Homo sapiens: one gene and its partners. The protein of the gene in region 1 interacts with the protein of each later gene in a pairwise test. Each region holds a gene or a part of one and is shown on either strand. Other genes may lie near its edges.

Evidence for each region.
Region 2: the proteins of CPNE7 (region 1) and NECAB1 interact in binary tests that used the Homo sapiens proteins (3 or more experiments, as listed by UniProt).
Region 3: the proteins of CPNE7 (region 1) and OTP interact in binary tests that used the Homo sapiens proteins (3 or more experiments, as listed by UniProt).
Region 4: the proteins of CPNE7 (region 1) and ZNF18 interact in binary tests that used the Homo sapiens proteins (3 or more experiments, as listed by UniProt).

What each region holds. Positions count from the first base shown.
Region 1 is NC_000016.10:89,578,744-89,585,768, reverse strand, and holds part of CPNE7 (copine-7), read right to left. Parts: intron 6,913-7,025; coding exon of another isoform or gene 6,773-6,912; intron 2,326-6,772; coding exon of another isoform or gene 2,241-2,325; intron 2,073-2,240; coding exon 1,998-2,072; intron 1,742-1,997; coding exon 1,667-1,741; intron 996-1,666; coding exon 912-995; intron 306-911; coding exon 216-305; intron 83-215; coding exon 1-82. UniProt on the Homo sapiens protein: Calcium-dependent phospholipid-binding protein that may play a role in calcium-mediated intracellular processes.
Region 2 is NC_000008.11:90,787,259-90,794,778, reverse strand, and holds the start of NECAB1 (N-terminal EF-hand calcium-binding protein 1), read right to left. Parts: upstream 3,005-7,520; 5' UTR 2,893-3,004; coding exon 2,794-2,892; exon of another isoform or gene 2,611-2,793; intron 1-2,610.
Region 3 is NC_000005.10:77,635,704-77,642,753, forward strand, and holds the start of OTP (homeobox protein orthopedia), read right to left. Parts: upstream 3,011-7,050; 5' UTR 2,847-3,010; coding exon 2,810-2,846; intron 1,528-2,809; coding exon 1,118-1,527; intron 1-1,117. UniProt on the Homo sapiens protein: Probably involved in the differentiation of hypothalamic neuroendocrine cells.
Region 4 is NC_000017.11:11,994,452-12,001,372, forward strand, and holds the start of ZNF18 (zinc finger protein 18), read right to left. Parts: upstream 3,025-6,921; 5' UTR 2,980-3,024; intron 2,922-2,979; exon of another isoform or gene 2,822-2,921; intron 2,660-2,821; exon of another isoform or gene 2,359-2,659; intron 1,229-2,358; exon of another isoform or gene 1,107-1,228; intron 1,076-1,106; exon of another isoform or gene 1-1,075. UniProt on the Homo sapiens protein: May be involved in transcriptional regulation.

The DNA of each region.
Region 1 (7,025 bases):
CCTTCTGCATCTCCTCGAAGGTGGTAGAGAATTCTCCGATGAAGTCGTGCTTTCCTCGAGAGTCGTAATCCCAGACCAGGCACTGGGGAGCCCAGTCCTCCTCAGCACTGCTGTCTGGGGGCCCCAGGACCCTCCCACCCGAGCCCAGGTGTCTCCATCGCAGCCCACATCCAGGCCACCCCCTCACTGCCCCCTTGGTCCATCCCGTCCCCCACCTTTAGAGGCCTTGTCTCCTCGCAGCTGCAGAGGGAACTCAGAGAGACTTTGAAGGCCTCCCACACCGGGTTCAGGTTGTTCTTCACCACCTGTGGGCCGGGAGGGGCTGGCTCAGGGGAGGCCCAGGGCCCTGGGATCCTTGGGGGGGATAGAGACCTGGGTGGAAGAGCAGCTGTGAGGCGGGCACAGCTGGCCCTGCCCCTGCATCACCCCAGACAGCGCCGGGGCCCTGAGCTGGGGCTGGCACCCACTCCCTGCACGAAGCCATGTGAGGACCCGGGAGACACATTTCCGAGCCCTGTGCCTCCACCTTCGTAACTTCTGCCACCTCTGAGCCACCTGCGCTGCTCTCTTCCTTAAATAGATTCATTTTCACTCAAGTTAATTTCTCTCAAAAGAAAGCACTCTCTCCCTGCCGTCGCTGAAATCCCATTTCACCTGCAGGAAGTGGAAGGTAGGTCTAAAAATAATCACAGCCACGACTACACAAGCCTGCTGGATTCTGGCCACAGCCACGGCCCCCAGGGCCCTGCGCCTGCGGCTCCCTGTTGGATTCTGGCCATAGCCACAGCCACCAAAGCCCTGCGCCCACAGCTCCCTGTTGGAGGCTGGGAGCTCCTCCCATGTGGCCAGAGATGCGTGAGGGCTGGGGACAGCCCCTTCCCCTCCCTGTGTTCCCATCCCCGGCCGCTCACCTCCGTCCTGTACACCAGCTGCAAGCCCTGGTCGTCGTTGACCCTGTAGAGCTCCAGGAAGGGGTCGGACTTGCTGAAGAGGTCCTGGGGAGAGGCACAAGGGCTGCTGGGCCAGGCACTGTGAGATCGGGCTTTGGATGGGAGCTGGCTTTGTCGTTTCCCAGGGCTCACTTCATGCCACCAGCCGCTAATTCCTCAGGCACAAAACGAGGCAGCCAGTCCCCGCCGACAGCATCTCGTCCCTCCCTCCCGCCCCCAGGGATCTGACCACGGCGGGCAACTCAGCCCTCCATGGAGTCACCCTGCACACCCTGCGACTCAGCCCTCCACGGACTTGCCCTACACACCCTGCGACTCAGCCCCTCCAGGGAGACGCCCTACATGGCGGGGTTGGACCCTGTTCTGCCCACCCACGTGACGAGCCCGCAGAACCGCGCGCTGTTCCAGTTCCTCCTGTCACGACAGTGGCCTCGGGGGTGCTGGGCCTATTTCCCCATCCCTGAGCAGGGTCATGAGTGGTCCCCACAGGAGGGAGCTGCCCCAGCCCCAGCCCAGCTGCCAGGAGGGGCGGGAGAGCTAATGGCGGTGACAGTGATGATGGCGACCGTGACGGCAGCACGCCCAGCCCCAGGCACACTCCGCACACGTCTCACACGGGACATAGCCACGCGAGGTCAGCGCTGGGCAGGGACCGGGTTTTCGAACCGGTTCCCGGACCTCAGCCTGAGCCAGGCGTGCCCGGCACCTGCACTCACCTTGTCGTCCAGCTTCCTGGCCCGGAAGGAGAGCTCCACGTAGCCGTTGTTCCCCGAGATGTCCTCGGCGATCACCTGGCAGGGGGACGCCCGGGCTCCAGGCTTGGCCAGGTGGGGCCTGACCCCACCGTGGGGGACCAGAGGCCCCAGGCTGGCTGACCCCACCCAGCGGGGCCTGAGAGGAGGTGTCTGTGTACCCCCGGGGCTGTGTAGCTGCCGGCTCCTGCAGACCCTCCCTGGACGGCACGCTGCTGCCCATCTTCCGCCCACAACACCCCTCGGAGCCACAGCAGCAGGGCCTGCAGGCTGCAGGGGTGCGCCCGGGTCTCACCGTGATGGTGGACTTGCCAGCGTTCCTGCCAAACTTGAGCAGCAGCGGGCGGGTCACCTTCTTCTGGGCCACAATCTGTAAGTCAGAGGCGTCAGGCAGGGAGGGGCAGGCGGGGACGGCTCCTGACCCTGGAGACCCCACCGCGCCCTCACCCGGACTCTCAGGCCTGTCCTGTCTCCCCATCCCCCACCATGAGCTTCACTGCCCAGGGCCCGCGCCCCCTTTGTGGCTGCTCTCAAGCACCTGCCATCCCTGCGTGTGGCCACCCCTGCACGTCCACCACCTCACGGCGCCAGCAGTCGCCCAGGGGAGGCAGAGGTCATCATACCTATTTACCAGGTGAGGAAACAGGCTCAGGTGGAAGCCAGGAAGCAGCTCACAGCCCAGCTGGCCTGCACCTGCACAGGTGTGGCGGACGCCCCTCCACAGGTAAGCAGGGCTGCCCTGACCCTCTCCAGGCCCAGGTGAGAACCCGCAGAAGCAGAGGCGAGGCAGCTCAAACGGCCCCGGACCCTCACGCCCAGCATGTCCACGTAGCCACGGGCGGCAGAAAGGGTGTGAGCGAGGTGCCGGCCCAGGACCCCACCGCCCACTCCTCTTCGAAGGTGCCAAGGAGCAGAGTTGATTGTTCGAAGTGGACTGGGGCTTAGACCCTGGGGACCTCCTCATGCAGCCGGGGCCTCCTCCTCCTCACCAGGCCCTGCTGGACTTCCGCCCCATCGGCTATGAGCCCACCTGGGGTGGGTGGCGGATGACAGGCCCAGGCCCCTGCAGCCAGGTCATCTCCTCAGTGAGGAGCAGGACGGGGGCACACGGCCCTCCCAGGCTCCGTGTCCGAAAGGAGATGGTGATGACCCCGGCCAAGCGGGGTGGCCGTCATCTCCTCACACGTAAGTGATCTCAGCAACCATCGAATGGCCCACCAGGTAGCAGGTGTGTGCTTCCCACCTGCCCTCACACCTGCTACTGCCTGGCGGATGCTGGGAGGTCACAATGAGGTAGGTTGAATACAAAGCAGAGAGGGGCAGTCCCTCCACCCCCAACCAGGGCCGGCCTGGCCAGCAGCTTCTGAGCATGCGGCACTTTCCACACAGAAGAGAAAGCAGATCCCAGGTCAGGGCTGGGGAAGTCAAGTCAGGTTAAGGGGTGGGAAGGCTCTCTTAGGGGTGCAAAGGGGTCCTGGGTGCTGGGAGGGGGAGCCTCGGGCCAGGCCCCCCAAGATTCCCTGATTCAAAGGTTTCCTTCTGGGGCTCCTGAGCCAGGGCCTCTGCCTCACACCTGGGACTCGCCTGCCGGCCTGGTTTGCTTCCAGGGAGGGCGCAGGAAAGGAGTGGCCTCCCCTTTCTGGCAGGAGAGCAGGTCCTTAGGAGAGAAACGGGCTCAGGCTAACACAACAGATTCCCCTACCAGGAAATACGAGATCGCTGATTTGTGCCAACAGCGTTTAATAAGCACTTCCTGGATCCCTGGCTCTGGGCTGAGTTACTGTTTACTTGAATCACATGAGGAAACAGTTGAGGCAGAAGTCAGGGGTCAGAGGTCAGGTCAGGCTCAAAGCCACAGCACAGGGACTGGATGCCAGTAGCTTCTCCCTTGACCGTGGTGCCCTGCAGGTCAGCTGGGTGGCCACAGAGCAGGAACCCACGAGGGGCCTCCTCATTGCTGGAAGTTTGCACATATCCACAGCACACGTGCTCACACACACATTCATATCTGCACGCAGGTGTCCACACGGACCCTGTGTGTGTGCTTATGTGAACAGGCATAGGATGTCCTGCACGGATTATGACATACATGTGCACCTGTGTGTACATAGAAAGGTGTCCAGGCCAGACACAGTGGCTCATGCCTATAATCCCAACATTTTGGGAGCCCAGGGTGGGTGGATCGGTGAGCCCGGGAGTTCAAGACCAGTTGGGGCAACATGGTGAGACCCCTGTCTCTTCAAAAAATGCAAAACGTAGCCAGGTCTGGTGGCGTACACCTGTAGTCCCAGCTACTCAGGAGGCTGAGGTGAGAGGATTGCTTGAGCACAGGCCGTTGAGGCTGCAGTGAGCTGTGACTGTCCCACTGCACTCCAGCCTGGGCGGCAGAGTGAGAACCCAACTCAAAAAAACAAAAAAAGCATGTCCATATTTCTGTGTCCGTGCCATCCTCTTCCATCTGTGCCCTCCCTAACTCTCAGTTTCCTTATCTAAAAAATGGGGAGGACAACAGGATCGATGGCACGCCAGCTCCGACCGAGGCTGCAGGGGGATGAGTCACGCAGACATTATGTTGGGTAAAAGAATTCCACAGCAGGGAGAACACGCGCTGTGATTCATGGACGTGGAATTCCAGAAGAGACGAACCAGGCGGGGAGCTGGCCACAAAGGGGCAGGGGCAGCTGCGGGTGACGGGATGTTCCGTGTGATGGGTGACGGGATGTTCCGTGTGACGGGTGATGGGATGTTCCGTGTGATGGGTGACGGGATGTTCTGTGTGACTGGTGACAGGATGTTCCGTGTGACGGGTGATCGGATGTTCCGTGTGAGTGGGTGATGGGATGTTCCATGTGATGGGTGATCAGATATTCCGTGTCAGCGGGAGACGGAATGTTCCGTGTGACGGGTGACGGGATGTTCCATGTGATGGGTGAGATGTTCTGTGTGATTGGTGAGATGTTCCATGTGACGGGTGATGGGATGTTCCGTGTGACAGGTGACGGGATGTTCCATGTGATGGGTTACGGGATGTTCCGTGTGACGGGTGACGGGATGTTCCGTGTGACAGGTGATGGGATGTTCCGTGTGATGGGTGAGATGTTCCATGTCAGCGGGTGACGGGATGTTCCGTGTGATGGGTGAGATGTTCCATGTGACGGGTGATGGGATGTTCCGTGTGACGGGTGATGGCATGTTCCGTGTGACGGGTGATGGGATGTTCCGTGTGATGGGTGACGGGATGTTCCGTGTTACAGGTGACGGGATGTTCCGTGTGACGGGTGAGATGTTCTGTGTCAGCGGGTGATGGGATGTTCCGTGTGATGGGTGAGATGTTCTGTGTCAGCGGGTGACGGGATGTTCCGTGTGACAGGTGAGATGTTCCGTGTGATGGGTGATGGGATGTTCCATGTGACGGGTGATGGGATGTTCCGTGTGACAGGTGAGATGTTCCGTGTCAGCGGGTGACGGGATGTTCCGTGTGATGGGTGAGATGTTCCGTGTGATGGGTGATGGGATGTTCCATGTGACGGGTGATGGGATGTTCCGTGTGACGGGTGAGATGTTCTGTGTCAGCGGGTGACGGGATGTTCCGTGTGATGGGTGAGATGTTCCGTGTGATGGGTGAGATGTTCTGTGTGATGGGTGATGGGATGTTCCGTGTGACGGGTGATGGGATGTTCCATGTGACGGGTGATGGGATGTTCCGTGTGACGGGTGATGGGATGTTCCGTGTGACGGGTGAGATGTTCTGTGTCAGCGGGTGACGGGATGTTCCGTGTGATGGGTGAGATGTTCTGTGTCTGCAGGTGATGGGATGTTCCGTGTGATGGGGGAGATGTTCCGTGTCAGCGGGTGACGGGATGTTCCGTGTGACGGGTGAGATGTTCTGTGTCAGCGGGTGACGGGATGTTCCGTGTGACGGGTGAGATGTTCTGTGTCAGCGGGTGACGGGATGTTCTGTGTGATGGGTGAGATGTTCCGTGTCTGCAGGTGATGGGATGTTCCGTGTGACGGGTGAGATGTTCCGTGTCAGCGGGTGACAGGATGTTCCGTGTGATGGGTGAGATGTTCCGTGTGATGGGATGTTCCGTGTGACGGGTGACGGGATGTTCCATGTGACGGGTGAGATGTTCTGTGTCAGCGGGTGACGGGATGTTCCGTGTGATGGGTGAGATGTTCCGTGTCAGCAGGTGACGGGATGTTCCGTGTGATGGGTGAGATGTTCCGTGTGATGGGTGTGGGATGTTCCGTGTGACGGGTGAGATGTTCCGTGTCAGCGGGTGACGGGATGTTCCGTGTGATGGGTGAGATGTTCTGTGTGATGGGTGATGGGATGTTCCGTGTGATGGGTGATGGGATGTTCCATGTGAGCAGATGACGGGATGTTCCATGTGATGGGTGAAGGGATGTTCCATGTGACGGGTGAGATGTGATGGGTGATGGGATGTTCCGTGTGATGGGTGAAGGGATGTTCTGTGTGACGGGTGAGATGTGATGGCTGACGGGATGTTCCGTGTCATGGGTGAGATGTGACAAGTGATGGGATGTTCTGTGTGATGGGATGTTCCGTGTGACGGGTGATCGGATGTTCCGTGTCAGCAGGTGACAGGATGTTCCGTGTGAGGGGTGAAGGGATGTTCTGTGTGACAGGTGAGATGTTCCGTGTGACGGGATGTTCTGTGTGACGGGTGATGGTCAGCTGTGTACAGTCACCTAAACTTGTCATTCTCAACCCTTAAGATTGATGCATTTTATCGTAAAATTTTTTTTTTTTTTTGAGACAAAGACTCACTGTCACCTGGGCTGGTGTGCAGTGGCGCGATCTCGGCTCGCTGAAACCTCTGCCTCCCAGGTTCAAGTGATTCTCCTGCCTCAGCCTCCCCAGTAGCTGGGACTACAGGCACGCACCACCACGCCTGGCTAATTTCTTTTCTATTTTTAGTAGAGATGGGGTTTCATCATGTTGGCCAGGCTGGTCTCGAACTCCTGACCTCGTGATCCCCCCACCTCGGACTTCCAAAGTGCTGCGATTACAGGCGTGAGCCACCGTGCCCGGCCTGTAAATTTTACCTCAATAAAAAAGAAGGACCCGTCCTGGCAAGGTGTGAGGATTCCGTGCAGCACAGGAAGTGCTTAGCGCAGTGTCCAGCAGGGCCCAGCACATCAACAGACACTCTCATCACGACTTGCAGAAGCCACTTTTGGGCTGGCTGTGGAGGCCGTAACCCAGAGAGCATCACCAAGGAAGCAGTGGCCACCGTAGGACCTGCTGCTCACAAGGAGGCTTCTTTTTTTTTTTTTTTTTTTGAGACAGAGTCTCAAT
Region 2 (7,520 bases), on another chromosome or scaffold:
ATAACCATAATACTTCAAATTTATGCAATACTTTTTGCTTTGTTTCCATTTTCCCTTATTTCATACTCACAACAGCCTAAGGAAGTATCATAGTGATTACTATTGCTGATTTGGAGAGGATACTGAAGGAAAAGCCAACAGTTGTGGCAAATCTATCTCTGATTTTCTTGTTAAAATCTGTCTCTAGTTTCCAACCAGCTGGTCATGTATCATGTCATTAATAGTGTTCTCAGTAGCAGTTTACATCATTTCTTAAATGATTGATTATTCCAGTGACATTGCAATAAAAAGCACTGCAAATCAAAGTTTTCCTCAAATTTGGAAATTGTCTGTTTGATACAGAAGACACACAGAAAATTACCTGTTCCAGTTTGGAACAGGTAATATCTATCACCTATGTATTATAATATGAAGATAATTTTAAAAGTAATCTTTCTTGCTAGTGCCATAGAATATATTAAATCAAATAAATAAAGTGATGCATGTATATTTTATATTTTATTTTGCTAAAAGTGGTATGATCCAGAAATGAATAATTCACAAATCCCTAAGTAACAAATCATTTTTCATATCACATATTTCACCAGTGTTAGATTTTTCACAAAATAACTCAAAGAAAAGTGTAAACAAAATCTTTTCCATTTGACACAAAATCCAATGGCAGGTTTTTTTTGTAGACTCTAGCATTTTACCGACAAACAAGCATGTCAACACCTCTCATAGGGAATCAGTTTCCTATTTTTATTTTTAAATCTCTGAAATATAAAAGGCAAGACCACCCTATTCACAGACTACAAGTTCCTTTAGTACAGGGACCTGATGCTATTTGTTTACAGACTTGGAAACAATCATGCATACATAATAAAAAATGAAATTTTAATTTTCTCTTCGAAAACATTGCAGTTGAACACTTAAGCAATGGCTGGTGTATGAGTCAGGAGGATGACTTTCCATTTGTGTAGTTTTAATCCATTCATCTCCACACTATCACCGGGGTTTGTTAAGTGCTTTTTAAAAAGCACAGGGAAGCACTTGATCTCAATGGGGGACAGAGTGAAGATCAGGTCAGAATGAATGGAGGCCCCACTTGTCCCCTTTGAATCAACTCCATGGCCCCTTAATTGTCAGCCTCATAACTGACATGATTTCCAGGGGCCCTGACTTTTCAGGCATGTTGTGGTGCCCTTCTCTTTTCTCAGCTTACCTCCTCAAGTGCTTTATGGCCCTGAACAGCAAAACTTGAATAAGATCAGCCCGTTAAGCCATGAGCACCAATAATACCATCTGACTGACCCAAGCCAGGCAGAGATAAATGCTCATGAAGGATAAGGTACTTAACCACCTGATTGGGTGGCTGAATAGGAATGACCACACCTGAGATTTGGTGGGAAGGAGATGACCAGCCCAGAATGCCTGGATCACCAATTGGAGCCACCAGGTGATAAAGGGTGAAGGCTGCCAGTACACACAGTTGAACCTCACTTCTATCATTTGCCTTACAACAGTTTGAATTATTGATAGGAGTTTCTTTCCCTAGAATTAAAAAGAATTCTAGCCAATCCATTCAAAATAAACTTGGGAGAGCGCCTCACATCCTCCTATCCTCTTTATCTCTGCCTCACCATTATGATACTAATTGATTTCCTCATATTTTCATCTCTCCACAAACAAATGTATCTGGCTTCTGGCCCATCTCCCACTCATTTTGACTTTAATAAGAAAAGATAACTCAGAGAAGGGTAAAGGACAGAGCACGTAGCACTCCTCCATGTCCTTTGACATTTTCTATCATGCCTAAACAAGAAGCAGACAGAATTGTCCCCACTGAGATAGACACGACCTCCGGCAACAGCATGAATGTGACAACTGAGGGGCTGGGAGAGCCTGGAGCCCGGCAAGCAGCTGAGAGAAACCCCAAAGCAGAGAGAAGAGATAGGCAACAGACGGAAAAATAGAGAAAACAGAAACAGCAGGCAGGAGAGGAAAACAAAATTGAGAAATAAATAAGAAATAAAAGTGCTGTAAAGATAGAAACCACACCATACGGGAAAAAGAAACAGCACAGAAGGAAAAGAAAGGATGTAATCAGATCAGAGTAATGAAGGCAGGCAGTCGATACCGAAGTGAGAAATTGGACCAAAGGGAAAATAGTCAAAAGCTAGAATTCATGGAGGTGACAGTAGTAATTAGAACTTGGAGAGAAGGAGAATATCAGGGAAGAAAAAGGGAAAATAGAAGAGGTGGCAGTGACAAAAAGAATCATTATGAAAATGATATTTCCCACCGCTGTAAAAAGAAAAACAAATATGCTCAAAGTAATTGTTTTCCGAGGGGGTCTGGGGGAGGATAACGAGGGCATCTCAATCGCTGCTGCTTCCCTGGCTGGGTTGCTTGAGAGCATCCACGAGTGTGAAGGCTGCGAATAGGGCGCGTTAGAGAGATGAGTTGGGACACTGTCCCCACCTCACCCCCCACACCTTGTGCCTCTTTAAAATGTCCTATGCACTCAAATGTTGTCTGTTGTATTTGCAATAGTGTCTCTACGAAACCCAGCCTGTTGGAAAATCTAACTTTTGCAGTTTTCTTAAGGGTGTTAAGCCACAAGCTGCAGGTCTGGGACAGCCCTAGCTGCAAGTTAAGGGACAGTCGTTCCTCCTGCATTTGCATCGGTAGTTCTCGCCTGTGTTCTGGGGACAAAGCATTGGCTGGTCAGCACCTGAGCCGAACCCCTTCCTTTCGGGGAAAAGAAAGGTGCTGGGAAGCAACCGCCCAGCTCCCACCATCTGTACTTACGTCGAGGAAGATCGACATGCCCTTGGACAGGTGCAGAGCAGAGCTGAGCTCCTCCGAGGAGTTGTTGGAGGACGGCGATGTCTCCTGGGAATCTTCCATCCTCGGGAGCCCTGACGGCCTCAGGCGGAGCGGGGCTAGGCGGACGCACCGGCTCTGGCAAGGGCGCGGCCGCAGCTGCTGCTTCGCCGCCGCCGGGCTCTGGATCCGGGAGGGTGTTCGCTCCCGCGCGCGCCTCCCTCCGCGCTCTCCGCGCTCTCCGCGCTCGGTGTCCCCCCCTCCCTCCTCCGGCCTCTGCGCTCCCACGCGCTCCAACTCTCGCCTCCTCCTTCCCGTAGTTGACGGCGTCTGGATCCATGTCATCCCCGCACGTAGCAACGCGCGGAGGGGAGCGGGCTCTGCCCCCGGCACGGCCATCGGCCACGGCTGGAGATAGCCTGGGGACCCCTACCAGCCCCACGACGGCCCCAAGTGCAGGGATGGAGGAGGGCGTCCGGACAGAGAGAAGGGACGAATGGCAGGGCGTTTGTCCTGAGCAGCCAAAGCGCAAGGTAAGGACGCCCCCAGCCTCACCTGAGTGGATGCCATAAATAGGGAGGAACTCAGAGAGGTTCTACCTACTCTGCTTTTGGTCCCAGTGGCCTGTCTGCCCGACCTTCCCCAAAGGCGGGGGCAGGGTTCACGAATACCAGCAATCGAGGAGCAGCTGGTTTGGTGTAGGGATTAAGCCATTCGGTGTTATCTTGCGCTCGAAGGACTTAACCTGTAAGCCTCACTTTTCCTCATCAGTAAAATGGTTACACCGGTCTCACCCCAGAGGGTTCTGAGGCTTACCTATGGCAGTGCTGCTGACAAAGGCGGTGCTATGAACTCTGCCTAGAGTAGGCTTCGAAACGTTTGCTATGGGGCAAGGATTGTTAGGTAATGTTCAAATATGAAGTTTCCCAAAGTCACAAGACGAAGTCCTTATCTGTGTTTAAGCATTTAAACCAGGGTAATTATTCAATATTTGACGGCTTCTGCGAAGGCTGTAAAAATAGGAAACTGACCACACCTTTCATCAGGAGAGAGATCCAGTTTATTGGGCATCTAAAATGTGTATGTGTTGGTTACAAACTTGAGCTATCTGGGAGCGAGATAAGGCAAAAAAGAGGGAACCTTGTCTAAACAAGACTCTGCCTCTACCAGTGAGAACGGGTGAGGAGGATCCAGATCTCCATTTTGTGGCCTTTGGAGAAAAGTAAACATATTCTTCCTATAAGACAGGCCCACACACAACCAAAATGCTGATCAACATGTGAGTGTCTTAAAGGCATGTAAAACATGCTAGGGGTTTCTCAGGAGAGACAGGTTACACTCTGGCTGGGGGGACCAATAAAAGCTTGATGAAAGAAGCGGTATATGAAATGGACCTTAAAAATCAGTGGATACTCCATGCTTGATAGAAATAGAAGGAAAACACTTCCAGGCAGAAGGAACAGCGTAAGCAAAGCATGGCACCAGGAAAGCACGTGGAAGCTGGAAGTAGTCCACTGGGGATTCCTATAAACATACAGAATCCCAGATCCTACCTGGGCTTTCCAAATCCCAATACTAAAGTACTGTCTAGTCCAGAAATCCAAGTCCCCCTCACCCTAATGATTCATACACAGTTGCTATGTAGTAGGCTCAGGACTAGGGTGTGGCAAGTGGGGCCACTTGAGCACAGAATGTAAGGAGGCACTTGCTCTCAATCTCTATCCTGTGCTTGCATGATCCTGAGAATGATTTTCTTAAATTTTGCACCCTAGGTGTCTTGTTCACTTCACCCAAGTCCCACTGCTCCTTTGTAGATGGGTGCTTACAAAAAAAAAAAATGAATCCAGTTGTTCTCAACGCTGCCTGTACATTGGAATCACCTGGGGTGTGTGGTAACTTTAAAATGTGCCCACAAATTCATTGACATTCTTCCTATAGAGAAGTGGGTCCCCTCCCCTTAAATCTGAAAGATTGTGACTGCTACAATGAATGAAATGGAACAGAAGTGTTGCTATGTGCTTTCCGAGGGTAGGGGCATAAAAGCCTTTGCAATTCCACTTTTTACAGTGGATTTGCTCCTGGATTCTTGAACTTCCGTATAGGAAGTTTTTCTACCTTAAGCCACCATGCTTTGAGGAAGCCCAAGGTATATGGAAAGGCAAGTGTAGACACCTGGCTTACAGGTATAGCTAAGCAGAGCCTTTGCATTATCCCAGCCTCAGCAGCAGAAATGTCAATGAGGAAGCCTGCAAATGACTCCAGCTCCCAGCTCTTGCAGACATCCCTAGCCATGTGAGTTGTCCCAGCCAAAACCCCAGGCATCATGGAGTAAAGGCACACTACCAGTGCTGTGCTGTGTCAGAACAGTTGGACCACAGAATTGGGAACATAATAAAATGTATACCGTTTCATACAAATAAGTGTTGAGGTGGTTGGATTTGTAACAATAGATAACCAAAATAAGGAGCTAACCCTCCCTGCACAAACACACACACACACAAACCAAACTGATGCCTGTGCTTCATCCTCAAATTCACTTTCAATTAGTATGCGGTGGGCCCAGTGGATTAATGTTTGTTTGTTTGAAGATTTCCATGTGATTCTGATGTGCAGCAAGGATTAAGAATCACCAAACTTAACTGTGCTGTACATACAGTACAGGAAAAAAGTAGAATAAAATCTCAGAAAATAGGCAGAGGCTATAGGATGAAAATCTGTGAAGCCCGGGGATAGAACTCTGGACTTAATTAGGTAGAGAGTTAGAGACATTAAACTTAATCAGGGGTGAGATATTGATTGGAGCTGTGCTTTAGGAATATTCATCTGACATCTTTATGTGCATTTTCCTAATTAACTGCAAATTTCCTTACCTGAACAGTGAGAATAGACCCTTCTCTTTGACAACTGTTCATCAAAATAGATACAAAATCATTTAAAAAAAAAACATACTGGTCAACCCATCAGATAGACACAGGTCATTCAAATCACTGAAGGAGAAAAACCACGAGAAGGAGGGGGGCTGTCAACCATTAACATCAAGTTACTGAATTTATCAAAATAACATGTTGTTTATTCCTGCCATTGGATGAAGAATGGAATAGATTTTTCTGCAACAAGTGCAGTTTAAGTCTGACCCCTCTAACCCAAGTTGTGCGGGTCCCTCAGCCCTCAAATTCAACCACACAAGTGATAATATTTTTATGCCAATCCCATGGTAACAAGAATAGTTAATAAAGGAGACTTTCTCTGATTATAAATGAAGAACAGGAGAATAATCAGCAGTCATCATTCAAAACCAGGAAGCTGTTTGTAACACTTTAGTTACAAACACTTCAGTTACAGGAAGCTGTTTGTAACACTTTACTGACAATGAATGACATTTTCTGTACCTGTGGATTTGCTTATTTCCTCTAATGGTCTATCAAGGAGAAACATAAATTATTAAGCAATCAACCGATCATTATTTATTTTTATGATTCCTATGTGAACACAGGAATACATTCTGCTGTAACTGACTTCTCTTTTTAATGGAAATGTAATGTTCACAGAGGCTGTAGTAGAAAAAATGGCAATTAGATTCACATTCACAGACAAATTCAATAGGCTCTACGAAGTGGCAACCAAACATATTTTTATAGTTTTCTTTTTATCTAGATGGCATGCATTTTTGAAAGCAGTTTTCACACATTTTCGTGAAACACACATGCCTCACTGCTGTGCATAGTATCAGTCACAAACAGCAGACAACCGACTTGAGGGAGGAAATGCAACTTCTTTGTAGCAAGGGCCTAAAAAAAATAGAAATGTAATTCCAGATTCCAGCTCTCAGGCTTCCTATGATAAGACTTTGACGTGAAGATATTTCTAGCATTTCAGGAGATGATAGCTGTGTGGGAATATATTGTATTTCAATCCATCTCTGCCTTGTAGAAGAACTATTATCTAAACCATTTCAGACAGCTGGGAATCTATCTTATTTATATCTTAAATTCTAGGGAAGGTTATCCTTCCCTTTTGAGTGATGACTCAGAATCCTTTCAGTCAGGTTAGTGGACATTTTTGTTGCCTTGGCAGCTTAGGATCCAAATCCCCTTCCGCTTTAAGTGCCTATCCCCATGGTGTGTTTCCTGACTGGGGGCAGAACTCGCCCCTTCTGAAGGAAAGAAAGGAGATCCTCTCCCTCTTCTCTGGTAGCTGGAGCACAGGCTGAGAGCTAGGCTCAGCTGATAGGACACTTCACTTGTGTGTTTAAACCTGAATCAAGGGATGTGCGGGGAAGTTTATTAATGGCAGTAGACACTCACAGTGTAGTGTTGAGTGTGGCCACAGTGCCAGGGGAGCCCTGAGGATGAATTAATCAAATGGATAATGGCACTCTGTGATTTCAGCAGCCCTGTCCTCCAATCTTGATCTCGAGGCTTTCTGCCGACTTCCTGAGAGACCTAGTATCCTTCCAAAACTTTCTTTTCTGTTTTACCTTAGTCAAAGTTAGTTTTTTATGTTTGGATTCTGACAGATAAATTCAATTTAAATTTCTAGTGTTAAAGAAGGCCATAGTTAAGTCATTGGAAATAGCTGTTTAAAACATTTAATTATCTTCAGACATTTATTGATTGCTTGCTTCAATCCAGGCAACTGACAGGCAAGCTGGGGAAATGATAAAAAGGACTGGCCTTGCCTTTGCAGAACATACACAACTTAAGGAAACACTA
Region 3 (7,050 bases), on another chromosome or scaffold:
TAAAAGTAGGTAGCACTGGTTTAACAAATTGACCAGGTTGATGACACCCAGGATATCGTACAGAAAATACCACCGTCCAAGACGGCAAAGGAAGATTTTTCAGCACCCTGGATAGCTCAAGAGTGAGTACCGGCGCTTGGAATTTCACCTCCAGGCACCTGTCCATAAAATATTTGATATGTCTTCATTCTTTCTTTTAAAAAACAAAAAAAAAAAACAAACAAAAATCTGGGATTCACTAGGCTTATACTTTTATTCACCAATTTTCAGAATAATTATAGGTGTGATTTTCTAGGTTATATATAATTTACAGCTTGGAGAGTGGTTGGAGGAGAATAAGGGGTCAGCAATGATTTCCTCTACTGCCTGTCAACCTTTCCCGTTCTGAATGCCCCTTCTTCAGACATGATATCCACAACAGAAAGCCTTCATTTCCCCTCCCCCACCGTAGCTTCCTTAGAGGACTCCAAAACAAAACGGGGCTCACCGGCTTTGGGAATCTCGTCAGCTGCCCCCAGCGCACTGGTAGACTACGAAAGTTCAAACCCCTTGCAAACATCAAAGCTAGGAATATTTCGCCTGAGTGCAGAGGGAGGGTGATACTTAAGGTAATAAAGCCACGCCGTGAAACCTGGGTGTAGCACTTTTTTAAAAGGCGCTCATTCGCCTTATTTGCTCTTTTCTCTTGTTTTCTGTATAATTGTTGCATTCCTCCTTTTATCCAAACGCTTAACACAAACTCATTAGGGGGTAATATTTGTCAATAATGCGAGCAGGAGTTGAGGTGTGCGCTCGGCTGGGCCGCCCGGGGGGGCGCTGAGGTTGCCTTCTCAGGCGGAGGAGGCGAACCCTGTAGCCCGACAACGCCGGGCTTCGATTTTGAGGAGCTTCTTCCGGGATGTCGCTATACTGGCCGGAGACGGGCCTTGCGTGTCCATTGGGGGATGGCGATGGGGACCAGTTTCCGGGTAGAGAAGGAGATAACTCGATACAGGAACGCACAGGCAGCCTGAAAGCAGCCCAGGATCTCGACAGGGGAAGGGAAGACCCTGCTCCCTTTGCCCAAATCCTCCCGCCCTGTCCTTGCCTTCTGTCCCAGATCCCAAGCCCCTCGTACCTGCACTCGGGACTCGGTCAGCCCGATACGCAGTGCCAGCTCCTCACGCATAAAGATGTCGGGGTAGTGAGTCTTGGCGAAGCTCCTCTCCAACTCGTTGAGCTGTGCGGGGGTGAAGCGCGTCCGGTGGCGCTTCTGCTTCTGTTGGCCCTGCTGCTGGCCGGCTTGGCTGGGGTTCGGGCCGCCCTGGGGCCCGGGCTGCTTGTCCGGGTCTTTGGCGCTCACCGCCAGCGAGGCCGGAGTAGAGCCCACTGTGGTGATGTCCTCCCCGGGCAGCAGAGTGGCTCCCTCCACTGGGTCAGAGTTGGGCGCCAGGTCCCCCGGATGGCCCCCGGGGTCGGAGCCCCCCACGCCCAGCCTACACTTCACCGCCTCCCGGTGGCCCAGAAGCTCGGCGGCATCTTTCATACCTGAGGAGGCAAGGGGATCGCGGTCACTACTTTCTTGGCGATGCCAGGAGGGGCTGTCTTCCCCGCGCAGCCTTCCTTCAACCCGTCCTCGGCCCCCTCCGCACCCGCGCTTGTCCTAAGGAAGAAACTCCCAGGGTATTCAGCTGGGTTCCCCAGAATTTGGACAGCCGGGTTGGAATAATATCTCCCGGCCCCTTGCCCTCGCCGCAGCCGGCTCCCGTAGTAAACAGCACAAGCTTTCGTCTCTCCCACAATAAAACACTCCCAGTCCCGGCAATAAAACATGCCTCTGAATCCCTTCCATAAACCGTACCCCAGGCGCCCCAGGAAATCGAGAGCAAATCTTTGGACACAGGGGTGCGGGGGGCAGAAAGAAAATTAAACAATTCCTCGGTTGCTGCGGCACCTGCGCTTCGGCAGCCTGACGAACTGTACCTCCGGCCCTCAGCCGATTCCCTCTTACTTTCGGAAGATGAATAAGCCTCCAAGCTTTCACCCCCCGAAATCAACCCAAATCAGCTCCGCCTCCCCCTCAAATCAGAGAAAGTGTTTGGAAAATGGAGTCACATCCATCACCGAAGATTCCCAATCCGGAAACCCAGAGCTCAGCAACCCAGATAGCATTAAGGAAACTCGAGTGAACTCTATGGACAACCGTGAATCAAACTTTAGAGATTTCAACTTTTCTTTCCAGAGAAATAAAAGGCGCATTCCTCACAGCCATTGGCAACGCTGAGTCCCTTGCAGAAGAGGGGGGGATGACTGTGAGGTTGAATTTGGCTTCTCTCCTTCTCAACCAGCACACTTAGCAAATCCGCCTTGATGGCAGCAGCTTCTCCTTTATGCCAGATTTTTTACAAATTACACCACACTTAGAAAAGGAGGAGAGAAGAAGATGGTGGGGAGAGAGAAACGGGGGGAGGGAAGGAGAAAGAAATCCCAAATCAAAACAAACAGGAGAGGGAAAAAAGAGAGAGAAACACCTCCTAACAAATTATCACGGGGTATATCGCCTTTCGAAAAAAAAAAAAAGGCGGGGGAGGGGGGAAGAGAAAAATAAGAAAAACAAAAAGTAACAACATTCCCCAACTCCTTTCTTGGATCTACATATTCCATAGATTTTTTTTTAAAGGCGATGTTAAATCAAATTAAACTTTAATGCAGCACAATTACTTTTAAAGAAATTAGTCCATTTAGGTCGCATTAAGGTAAAATAAGGAACAAATTGACAATTTCCTGCCCCGGCTTCTCCTGGCTGCCCGGGCGAGAGGCGCGCACTCACCTAGCCTGGCGTCCAGGAGGTCGGCATGAGACAGCATCGCGCACCGCTCCAGGGCGAAAGCTGTTCCCCCCCAAATTTTAGCGGCTTTAAGTTATTTAAAATAGATATAAGCTATAAGCTATACGATATAGATATATATAGATCACCTAAATGAAAGAAAATTCGGTTTGTGGTTAAAAAGGGGGCTTCTTGCATTATAATGTCCTTTAGAGAGACGGGGAGGTGCTTAACAGTTGAATGAACCCGTGAGCAGCTCGGCGAGGGGACCAATCAGGAGGGCAGCCTGCAAATGTCAGCGCCCGGAGAGTCCCCCACTCCGCCCGCCCGCTCGCCTGCGCCCGCCTGAAGGAGGCGGCGGCGGCAGCCCTGGCAGCTCCAGCCCGGAGCAGGAGCTAAAGCAGCCTCAGCCGCCTCGGCCTCGCCCTGAGCTTCTGGGCCCGGCTCCCTCTAGTTCTTCCCTGCGATTTTCTCCAGGCTCCCCTTTCCTTCCCCTTGGCCGGCGCTGCGCGCTTCGAAGGCGTAGCTCTGTGCCTCTGAGCTAACATCTTCCTAGGGCAGGGGCAGAGCAGGGGTCAGAGCGGGCCATGACCCTGGCGTGACCTGAGGGTCGCCCCCACCTGCGCTCTCTGGGCCTGCCGCTCATATTGGCCCGCCAGCCCAGGGCGCGACGAGGGCACACCGCGGCCTTCAGACAACGCCTGGACTTCGCCGCGGCTCAGTAGGCCTGCGCCTAGGGTCCAGGCGCCCTGGCTGTGCCCTGGGGTCTATACGAGCCCCAACCCCACAGTGGGCCTAGAGCGCAAAGAGGAGTCGGCTTCCCTGGCACCGCCAGCGCCCGCTGTCTGCTTTGGGGACCCTCGCGGAGTGTGGGTTCGAGCGCTCTGCACTCTTCTCACCGGGCTTCTTCCCGGCTCCTGCTCTTCCGCTTGGCCCACGCCCGCATCCTCGCCCCTAACTCGCTCTTTTGGTCAAAGTTTCTAAGTTCAGCTCGGCTCCCAACTCCACTTAAGGCTGTAAATAAAGTTAAATGCTCTTTATTTTCCTCTTGAATATGTTAAACTACTTGAACAATTTAAAGTGCTTTGCACAAGTGAAGCGAACCATTTCTAATGTTCTGATTTTTCAGAGCCAGCCAACAACAAAGTTTAGATTAGTAATATATTTCTAACCAGAGTAATTTTCAAGATCATTAGGCATTTATGTAATTAGTGCCAAATCTATAAGCTTTTATTACGATTATTAGAGTAAAATCAGTATAAATTTGTACTAATTTACTACTGTTTAGACTTGGCTGTCAAGCCTAGAGGTTCTTATTGTAAATGATAACTGAGGAAATTAAGTGCAAAATTCTGTACCATTTCTGATCTGCTCCTAAACAATCCGTTTCAATTGTATTTGTAGCAGAACATAATGCCCTTTTAAAGTTATTTGACTTGTATTTTTATTTGCAACACAAGAAAAATGCCCTCTACCCAGTCACAATGAAAACTGATATTTACTACTCCCAACTTGATTAACATTGATTTTTAATTCGAGAGTGATGCAATTAAGATTATTCATTTAGTGCAAATAAACCTTCCACAAAAGGGTGGCCCAATGAAGTCTGTTTTAAATAATACTGAGCAAATGGCTTTTTTTGTTCGCCGTCCAATTGACTTAGACAAAACATTGAAAATGCTGGCTGAGAGCAGATGCGAGAGGAATTGTGTGTGTGTGTGTGTGTGTGTGTGTGTGTGTGTGTGTCCTCAGCTGTATGTGTGACAGGGACCGAGCAAGGAGACAAAGGAGGCGGCAAAGCGAACTCTCGGGCAGTTTTGTTTCCTCCTTCCCTCCTGCAGCCCGTTCGCCTCCTCTCCTGCACACACACGTGCGCGCGCACACATATGCACACACGTGTGAATGCAGGGTATTGGCCACACCAGTTTCTTCTGAGCTGCGGAGACCGCTTCCCGGGAAGCTCCGGGCCGGACTGGGTTTCAGCGGCTGCTGCAGCTGCTACCAACGCGGCCTATGTGGGACTGGGCGCCGGGGTCGTGGACTCAGGCTCGCGGCGTGTCTGGGAGCCGCTAGGGTTTTTGGCAAGCGGCCGCAGCCCTTCTGAGAAACGCTTTGCCTGGGAGGAGAATTCCGAGACCTAAAGCAAACAAAGTCTCCCCAATAAAAGCTTTCTTTGCCCCCAAACAAAACCTCAAATCTAGAAGCTAGAGCGCTGGGAGCGCACAGCAAAAGGAGGCCAGACAGCAGCCCAGGGAGGGGCGGCGTGAGCTCAGGACGGTGACTCGGGAGTACGCACCGGCCCGCGCACGTCCAGGGACTCGCAGGAGGTTTCTGCCCACCTGGGTGGGGCTTGCAGGGTGTCCACACCGGAACGCAGGGTCAGAAGTGGGGGGAAAGTGGCTAAGGAAGAGACAGGGAGACCTGGCTCCAGAACCCTGCTCCCAGAAATAGGCAGGTCCGCCAGGCCGCACAGCCTGGCTCCACACGCTGTCTGGAGGGAGGGAGAAGGGGCCGCGACCTGGGGAGACAAGGATAAGGGCGCGGGGCCGCGCGTCTCCACGTGCGTGCACACAAGCGCTAGTGTCCCCATCCCACAGTCGCCCCCGGAACGGCGCCGGCTGTGCAGCGATCTCCCACACGCACTCGCTCGTATATTCTGTTTTGTTGTATCTTTCAGGTCGATAAATGAATGTGTAATAGTTAATGTGAAGACACATCAGAGTAATAACAATGGGACGAAATCAAAGGATTATCCATCTCTGTTAGTAACCGCTGAATAACAATGTTGCGGCATGATTGATAGCCCGCTTCATTTTATGACTTTTCTATTGGTCTTGATTTTTATAGCAGTATAAACAAACTAAATCATTTCTTGCAAGACTTCAGAGCATAAGCATCTCGGGGGGGGGAAGGGAGAAAGGAAAGAAAAAAAAAGGGAAATCTGAGAGTGGGAAGGGGGCGGTGTGGGGCGTCGAGGCGGGGAGGGCGCAGGCTGGAGTTGGAGCCAGGTGCCCGCCGCCAGCAGGCAGAGCGAGAAAAACGACAATAGCCTGGATGTAAAAAGCTCCCCCCTGCTCCCGGTTCCCTCTCGGTAGCTCGTTTTGGCCAATGTCTGAATCCACCTGGGTAGCGCCTGATATGTATTTACCAGAGTTTTATTCCCCGTCATCTTCCCACGTTCCTGGGGCAGCCGGGAAAGTGCCGGTCAGGCCCATTGCTGTTGATAATTTAAGGCATTTCCCACATGATCATGGGAACTGAAGTCCCTAACAAGGCGAAGCTTTAGCGCAATGGCCCCCAAATCTTCGGAATGACAAGAATGTCTTCAGAAATCACTTCAAAGCAAAGTAAAAGGATTTTCTATGACGGATCCAGTGATTTTTCCTCAATAAATAGGTTTTAGATTGTTACACACACGTAGAAGTGGAACAAAGGGAACTACCAGAAAATATATTGGTTGCCCCTAATAAAATTTATTTAGACAGTTTACTTCTCATAAAAAATAGAGATTGAATTTTGTACAAGATCCTGCCAAGGGACGATGCACAGGGAAATCATTTTTTTCTTTCTCCTTTTCCCTCCTTCTCTTTTCTAACGAAGCACAAAGAGCGTTCACAGGCCAGGGAATCGGCTCCTGACTCCAGCCGCCCTGCGCGCCCAGACAGAGCCAGAGAACTCTGTAGCTGCGAGGAAAGTCGGCTTGCTGGGAGAATTAAAAAAAAAAAAAACAAAACAAAAAACAAAACAAAAAAAACTTGATGACTGATAATGTAAATTACAAGCACAGCAACTATCAAATCAGTGTCTTTACTCCTGCTTTGCCGTCCAGTTCCAGATCAAGACTTAGAAATGTGTGTCTAGACCGGGAGGTGGGGTGGGATGGGGCCCCCGGGCAGCTGGTGCCTTCCAGAGGAATTTGTGCTGATTGTATTTGTAATTCTGATTGTCTCTCTAATCGTATTTCTGCGTGCATTGTGAATCCTTTGTAGACACAGAAACAGACAGAATAAAAATATATACCGGGTGTTGTGGGAAGAATTGGGTAGTATGCCCAGAGCCCTAATTGCTTTTCCACTTACAAAAACCTCGGAGGTTTATTAAATGTAACTTTCGGCTGCTTGAGTTGTTTGTAAACTGCTCTCTTTTCTTTGCAGACAGTGGGCTGAAATATGGCGCGTTATTATTCACATTCCTGCTATTAAATGCTGAATTGTAACATTGTTCCCTTTAATGAGGAGCTCCTC
Region 4 (6,921 bases), on another chromosome or scaffold:
CTATTGACTGATGCCTTAAATAGTTGATTAACATACATTTTGCATGTTACTGTATTTTTGTGATAAAGTAAGTTAGACAAAATATTATTAAGAAAATTATAAGGAAGAGGCCAGGCCAGGTGGCTCACGCCTGTAATCCCAGCACTTTGGGAGGCTGAGGTGGCTGGATCACAAGGTCAGGAGATCGAGACCATCCTGGCTAACACGGTGAAACCCCTTCTCTACTAAAAATACAAAAAATTAGCCAGGCGTGGTGGCGGGCGCCTGTGATCCCAGCTACTCGGGAGGCTGAGGCAGGAGAATGGCATGAACCTGGGAGGCAGAGCTTGCAGTGAGCTGAGATCGTGCCACTGCACTCCAACCTGGGCGACAGAGCGAGACTCCGTCTCAAAAAAAAAAGAAAAAGAAAATTATAAGGAAGAGAAACTACATTTACTATTCACTAAGTGGAAGTGAATCACCATAAAGGTGGTCACCTTCATCATCTTCACACTGAGTAGCCTGAAGAGGACAAGGAACAGGAGAAGGAGAAGGAAGGGTTGGTCTTGCAGTCGCAGGAGTCACAGAGGCAGATGAAAATCCTTGTATAAATGGACCCTTGCAACCGTAATCCAATACCAAATGTTTTTTATGTGGTCCTCATTAAATTTATTTTTTGCTTAAAAAGAAACCCAGGTCTGAGCGCAGTGGCTCACGCCTGTAATCCTAGCATTCTGGGCGTCCAAGGCAGGGGGATCATTTGAGGTCAGGAGTTCAAGACCAGCCTGTCCAACATGGCAAAACCCCATCTCTACTAAAAATACAAAAATTAACCGGGCGTGGTGGTGAATGCCTGTAATCCCAGCTACCAGGGAGGCTGAGTGAGGCAGGAGAATTGCTTGAACCCAAGGGGGCAGAGGTTGCAGTGAGCCGAGATCACACCACTGCAAGAAAAAAAAAAAGAAACCCAGGCCAGGCGCGGTGGGTCACGCCTGCAATCCCAGCACTTTGGAAGCCCTAGGCGGGAGGACCACCTGTGGTCAAGAGTTTGAGACCAGCCTGGCCAACGCAGTAAAACCCCATCTCTACTAAAAATACAAAAATTAGCTGGGCATGGTGGTGCGCACCTGTAATCCCAGCAACTCAGGAGGCTGAGGTAGGAGAACAGCCTGAACCTGGGAGGCGGAAGTTGCAGTGAGTCAAGATCGTACCACTGCACTCCAGCCTGGGCGACAGAGGGAGACTCCATCTCAAAAAAAAAAAAAAAAAGAGTCAGTGAAGTCAAAAAATCTGAACACTATCAACCGACTTGCTCTAATTGACATTTTCAGAACACTAGACCCAAGAACTGCAGAGTATACATTCATTACAAGTGCAAAGAGTATTCATCAAAACAGACCATATGCATAATTTTCAAATGACTGATATCTTAAAATTAGCTCTAAAAATATTACGCAAAGTGGTATTGCTAAAAAGCCATTAAAGCAATACCAAAAAACACTCAAAAACCCAATATCTGATAGAAAAGGAACACAAGAGAAACAAAACCAGAAAGGTCAAATGGAAAACTTTAGAGCTTCCTGGGTTCAAATATATTCTCTGATCATAGTGCAATTAAAGTAGAAATCAATAACAATAACTAGAAAATCCCAATTTATGGAAATTACTAAATAATGCTCTTAACCCATAGTCAAAGAAAAAAATCACAAAGGAAATTAAAATATGTTTTCATACTGAGTGACAATGACAGCATTATCAAACCACCTGAAAAGCAGCTTTAGCTCAGAGGTAAACCTACAGTTTCAAATAACATCTTAAAAAACGAATAAATATATTTTTAAAAATACCTTGCTTTGTAAATCCAACCTATTTGGCTCAAGAGTTTCAAATAACAAGCGGCAAGATTTTAGATAGCAAGATACCGACCTGTAAACTTACTGCAATTTATCTGTTTCCTAAATTAAGATAGCAGTTTAGATAATATTTAAGAGAAATGACATTTTGGAAAAACTACAGATTTTATAAAATACTTAAATCTTTTGTTAGTAATATTATACTCCCAGGTAGTGTGTAAGAAAAATGTCTCGATTATTCAAAATTAAATTACTTTATATAGTATTAAAAATTTAATAGAGTTTATATTCCGATAACCTCATGAGGAACTGCCCCCATTAGTTATGAAAAAAAAATAAGGTTGTCTGTTATACCTGTTATTAAACCTTTAACAAATAGAATGAATTTTTAAAAGTGCATTCTAGGTGTAATATACACAAGTGGTTACATACATGGTTACATATATAAGTAACCATTTGTTAAGCACCTACTACGTATCGGCTCATTATTAAGCTCGGTTCATGTATTTCCAATTCCCACAATTACCCTGGTGTACAGATCAGGAACCTCCGAGGCTCACAAGTGGCAGCCAGATTAACCCAGGAAGCTCTAAAGCCTTTGCTTTGGGGAGAACTGCCAACGTCTGGTGATTTGTTGGGGCGTTTTCTGGTTGTCACAAGCAGCTAGGGGAACTGGCATTTAGTGCTCGAGGCCAGGGCAGCGCTGCTCATTGGATATGTATTCTCCACCATGCGCCCCCCAAATGCCGACTGCACTCTGATGAGAGAGGGAGAGACTCCAGGCATCATCCCATCGGGTTTCCTCTTCCAGAGACTCATTTTCAGCCCTTAGGGGAAGACAGCGGGGAGGAGCCCGTTTTCGGTCCCAGTGCAGAGACCCGGCCGGTCCCGCGGGGCGCAGAGGCGCAGGAATGCAGAGCCGGGACGGGGTTCACACATCCCCCCGCACCCACGGTCCACTCCCAGCCATGGCTGCCCCGGCCCCGCACTCGCCACGTCCCCCGCGCGCTCCCAGACGCATGGGCAAGGGAGCCCGCTGGCCCCTCCGTAGCTCCGGGGTGCCCAGCTGAGTCAGGTGCGGACGCAGATAGCGCAAGGCCTGACCCCGAGCGGCCGGAGGCCGGGACCGCCCCGCAAGCGCGCTCACCTCGGCCCGCGGCGCCGGCTCCGGGCGCACTTCCGGGAGCTGGGTGGCTGCGCGCGCCTCAGGCGGCAGGCGAACGACGTGCGGCACCGGGCGGAGCTAGGGGGCGGGGGCGGAGCTGATACCGAAGCTCCTATTGGCCGTCGGGGACGCCCCGCCTCTCTCTGGCGTTGCAGCCCAGGAGCCTCCACCGACATGGCAGCGAGGTTCCCGAGCCAACGCCATCCTCCGTTCCTTCCGTCACTCACTCACTAATCACTGTTCCTGAGTTCCTTCACTTCTCACCCGTCATTTATTGCGCACCTATTCTGTGCCAGGCACTCGGCCAAGCACTGCGAGGCCTTCAAAGATCATTTCTTTGTCTCTCCCAAACCCTTCCGCCCAGTCCCACCCGCAGAGCTGCAACGCTCTGCCATTATCCCTGATTCTTAACCGCCGCCTTTCTCCTTTCCGTTCTTGCCTCACTGGGCCTCCCTGAGACACTTGATTTGCCCCAACCTTCTTCCTCTGTCTTGGTTCTCCCACTCTCATCAGCTCTGCATCCCCTGGGTCCTCTCCCACTTCTCCCCATTCCGTTGGGGCTAGTCCAATGTGGTGCCATCCTCTTTCCACCTGCGTCTCTCTCTCTTCTCTCTCTCTCTCTCAACAAATGTCATCCCTGACTCTTCCCTTCTCCTTCCCTTTCCCACACGCCAACAATGGCTGAATCCTCTGATTTGACCTCATTGTCTCTCAGACACCTCACCCTCTCTCCCTTCTCACTATCCCTCCCTCGGCTCAGTTCCACACCATTTGTAATGGTCAAGACCTTCTTACCCTTTCCCCAGCGTCCAGTGTTGCCGGTTTCCAGGCCATCCTGTGCTGGGCCACGACATCAACTTGTGATACTAAGTTGCATTAATGGAAGTATCATGTCAAAGTTTGGGTGTTCCACCTTGGGCAACTGGCAAAGAGGAGGGTATTCAAAAAAAGCTGCCATGTTCCCCAATAACCTATGGAAATAAAATAAATAAAAAATAAAAATTTAAAGAAGAGCTGTCATTATCATAACATGTCCTGTACCTGTCATTATCATAACATGTCCTGTACCTGTCATTATCATAACATGTCCTGTACCTGTCATTATCATAACATGTCCTGTACCTGTCATTATCATAACATGTCCTGTACCTGTCATTATCATAACATGTCCTGTACCTGTCCCATGTTTACAAGAATTAAAGATCCTCCTCTGGAGAAATAAAGCTTGATGCGGGGATGGGATTACATCTTCATGTACCTGAAAAGTGACCAGCGGAAAAGGGATTCGACATGTTCTCTTAAGTCCCAGGGTCTGAACAAGATCCTATGTGTGAAACTACTGTTTCAGCCTGACATAGGTGGAAGTTTCTAGTCTTTTTTTTTTTTTTTTTTTTTTTTTGTATTTTTGGTGGAGACGGGGTTTCACCATGTTGGCCAGGCTGGTCTCGAACTCGTGACCTCAAGTGATCCACCCACCTTGGCCTCCCAAAGTGCTGGGATTACAGGCATGAGCCATGGCACCTAGCTGGACGTTTCTAACATTCATGTGATTGATGGCGCTGCTTTGAGTTCCTGAGGACAGCATGGCTAACAATTTACCAGGCACATTTAGAGGGACACCTTCATTGGGTATTGCTTCCAACATCAATGTGCTCTGCTTCTAAGAAAGTCAAGAGATAAGGTGGTTTAGAGGGGAAGATTATAGGAGTTTTATCTTCAATGTGTTCGCTTTTAGCTGATCAACACCCAAGGAAGATAACAGTAATTCAAAACCATTAATTGGGTTCTGACTCCTTTGTGAATCTGATGGAAGGTAAAATTTTTCCCAAGAAAAATGCACATACACATCTACATACAACACTTTGCACTCAAATCCAGGGAGCTAACACAGCCTTGAAACCCATCCTTGGAACCCACAAACCTCAGTTTGAGAACTCTAATCCTGGTAGATGGTTCCTGATATGAAAATGACACTTTGAAGTTTAATAATTTCTTTATAAACTGGCACCTTAGGAAAAGGCATAAACACTTATTTCGAAACAGGCTGAACAATCAAAATATTTTTTAAAATAGGGAGATATCTACCTCAGCTTAGGAAATAATGAAAAGGTGTCATCTATTTCTATTATTCACTTACTCATTCAATAAATATTTACCAGATGATGTGCCCAGCACTCTTCCAATAGCTATATATGCAAGAATGAACTAAACACACAAAGTCCCAGCCCTCCCAAGACTTATATTTTGTAGGGTGAGCTGGACAATAAATAAGTGCACAAGTGGTAATTATAGGTGTTGTGAAGAAAATTACATTGGGGTAAGGAGGAGAGGTACTGTTAGAGATGGAGTGCAAGTTATATAGGATGGTCAGGGAAGGACTAACAGATAAAACAGGCTTGAATCCAGACCGGAAGTTAATTAAGACGCAAGCCTTGCGTGTATCTGTGGGAACCTCCAGGCAGAGGAAATTGCAAAAGTTTTTGTTGTTGTTGTTGTTTGAGACAGAATCTTGCTCTGTTGCCCAATGTAGTGCCAGAATCTCAGCTCACTGCAACCTCCGACTCCAGGTTTAAGTGATTCTCCTGCCTCAGCCTCCTGAGTAGCTGGGATTACACATGCTTGCCACCGTGCCCAGCTACTTTTTGTATTTTTAGCAGAGATGAAGTTTCATCATGTTGGCCAGGCTGGTCTCAAATTCCTGACCTCAGGTGATCCACCCACCTCAGTCTCCCAAAGTGCTGGAATTACAGGTGCGAGCCACCAGGCCCACCCATAAACGTTTAGGCCATGAAACAATGAGTGACAATAAAGAGAAGCACTATAAAGACCAAGCCCTGGACCACGCCAACATATAGGGTCAGGGTAATAAGAAAAATCTATTAAAGGAGAAAGAAACTGAGGAGCCACTGAGGTAGCAGGAAAACAGAGAGTGGTATCCGGGAAGCCAACTGCATAAAGTGTTCAAAGAAAGAAGGAATTGCTGGGTGTGGTGGTTCACGCCTGTAATCCTAGCACTTTGGGAGGCCGACATGGGCAGATCACCTGAGGTCTGCACTTCGAGACCAGCCTAACCAACATGGAGAAAACCTGTCTCTACTAAAAATACAAAATTAGCTGGGCGTGGAGGTGCACGCCTGTAATATACAAACTGGCACCTTAAGAAAAGGTATAAACCCATAATCGCTTGAGCCCAGGAGGCAGAGGTTGCAGTGAGCCTAGATCACACCATTGCACTCTAGCCTGGGCAACAAGAGCGAAACTCTGTCAGAAAGAAAGAAAGGAAGAAAGAAAGAATCATCAACTAATCAAATGCCATGATCAAATGTAAGATGAGGATTAAGAATTGACTGAGCAACAGGAGTATAAAATCACTGGTGACCTTGACCTTATAAGAGTGGTTGGGAGTAGAGAAATCCTGAATGGAATAAGTTCAATAAGGAACGAGAAGAGAAGAATTAGAGCAGCAAATATAGACAAGTCATTCAAGAAGTTTTGCTATAAAAAGAAATAGCAAAATGAGACAAATTAGGAGATCTTACAGCATGCTTACACACTGATTAGAATGATCCAGTAGGGAGGAAAAATTTGTATGGAAGGGGAGAAAAGTGACAATTACTGAAAAATGTTCTTGAGTAGAGATTGATTTTTGAATAACAAGGCTTCTGGGTACTCACATAATCTAGGCCACATGGAACACTCACAGAAAACAATCTCCACTAAAGAGGAGCTTAAAGTCAAAAGTTACAAGCCACACCAAAAACAAATCCTCGTACAGAGAAAACGGGGAATAGAGAGGTGTTGATCAAAGGGTACAAAAAGTTCCAGTTAAACAAGAGGAGTAAGTTTTAGCAATCTATTGCACAGTGTGGTAACCGTAGTTAATAATAATGCATACCTCGGGCCGGGCGCGGTGGCTTACACCTG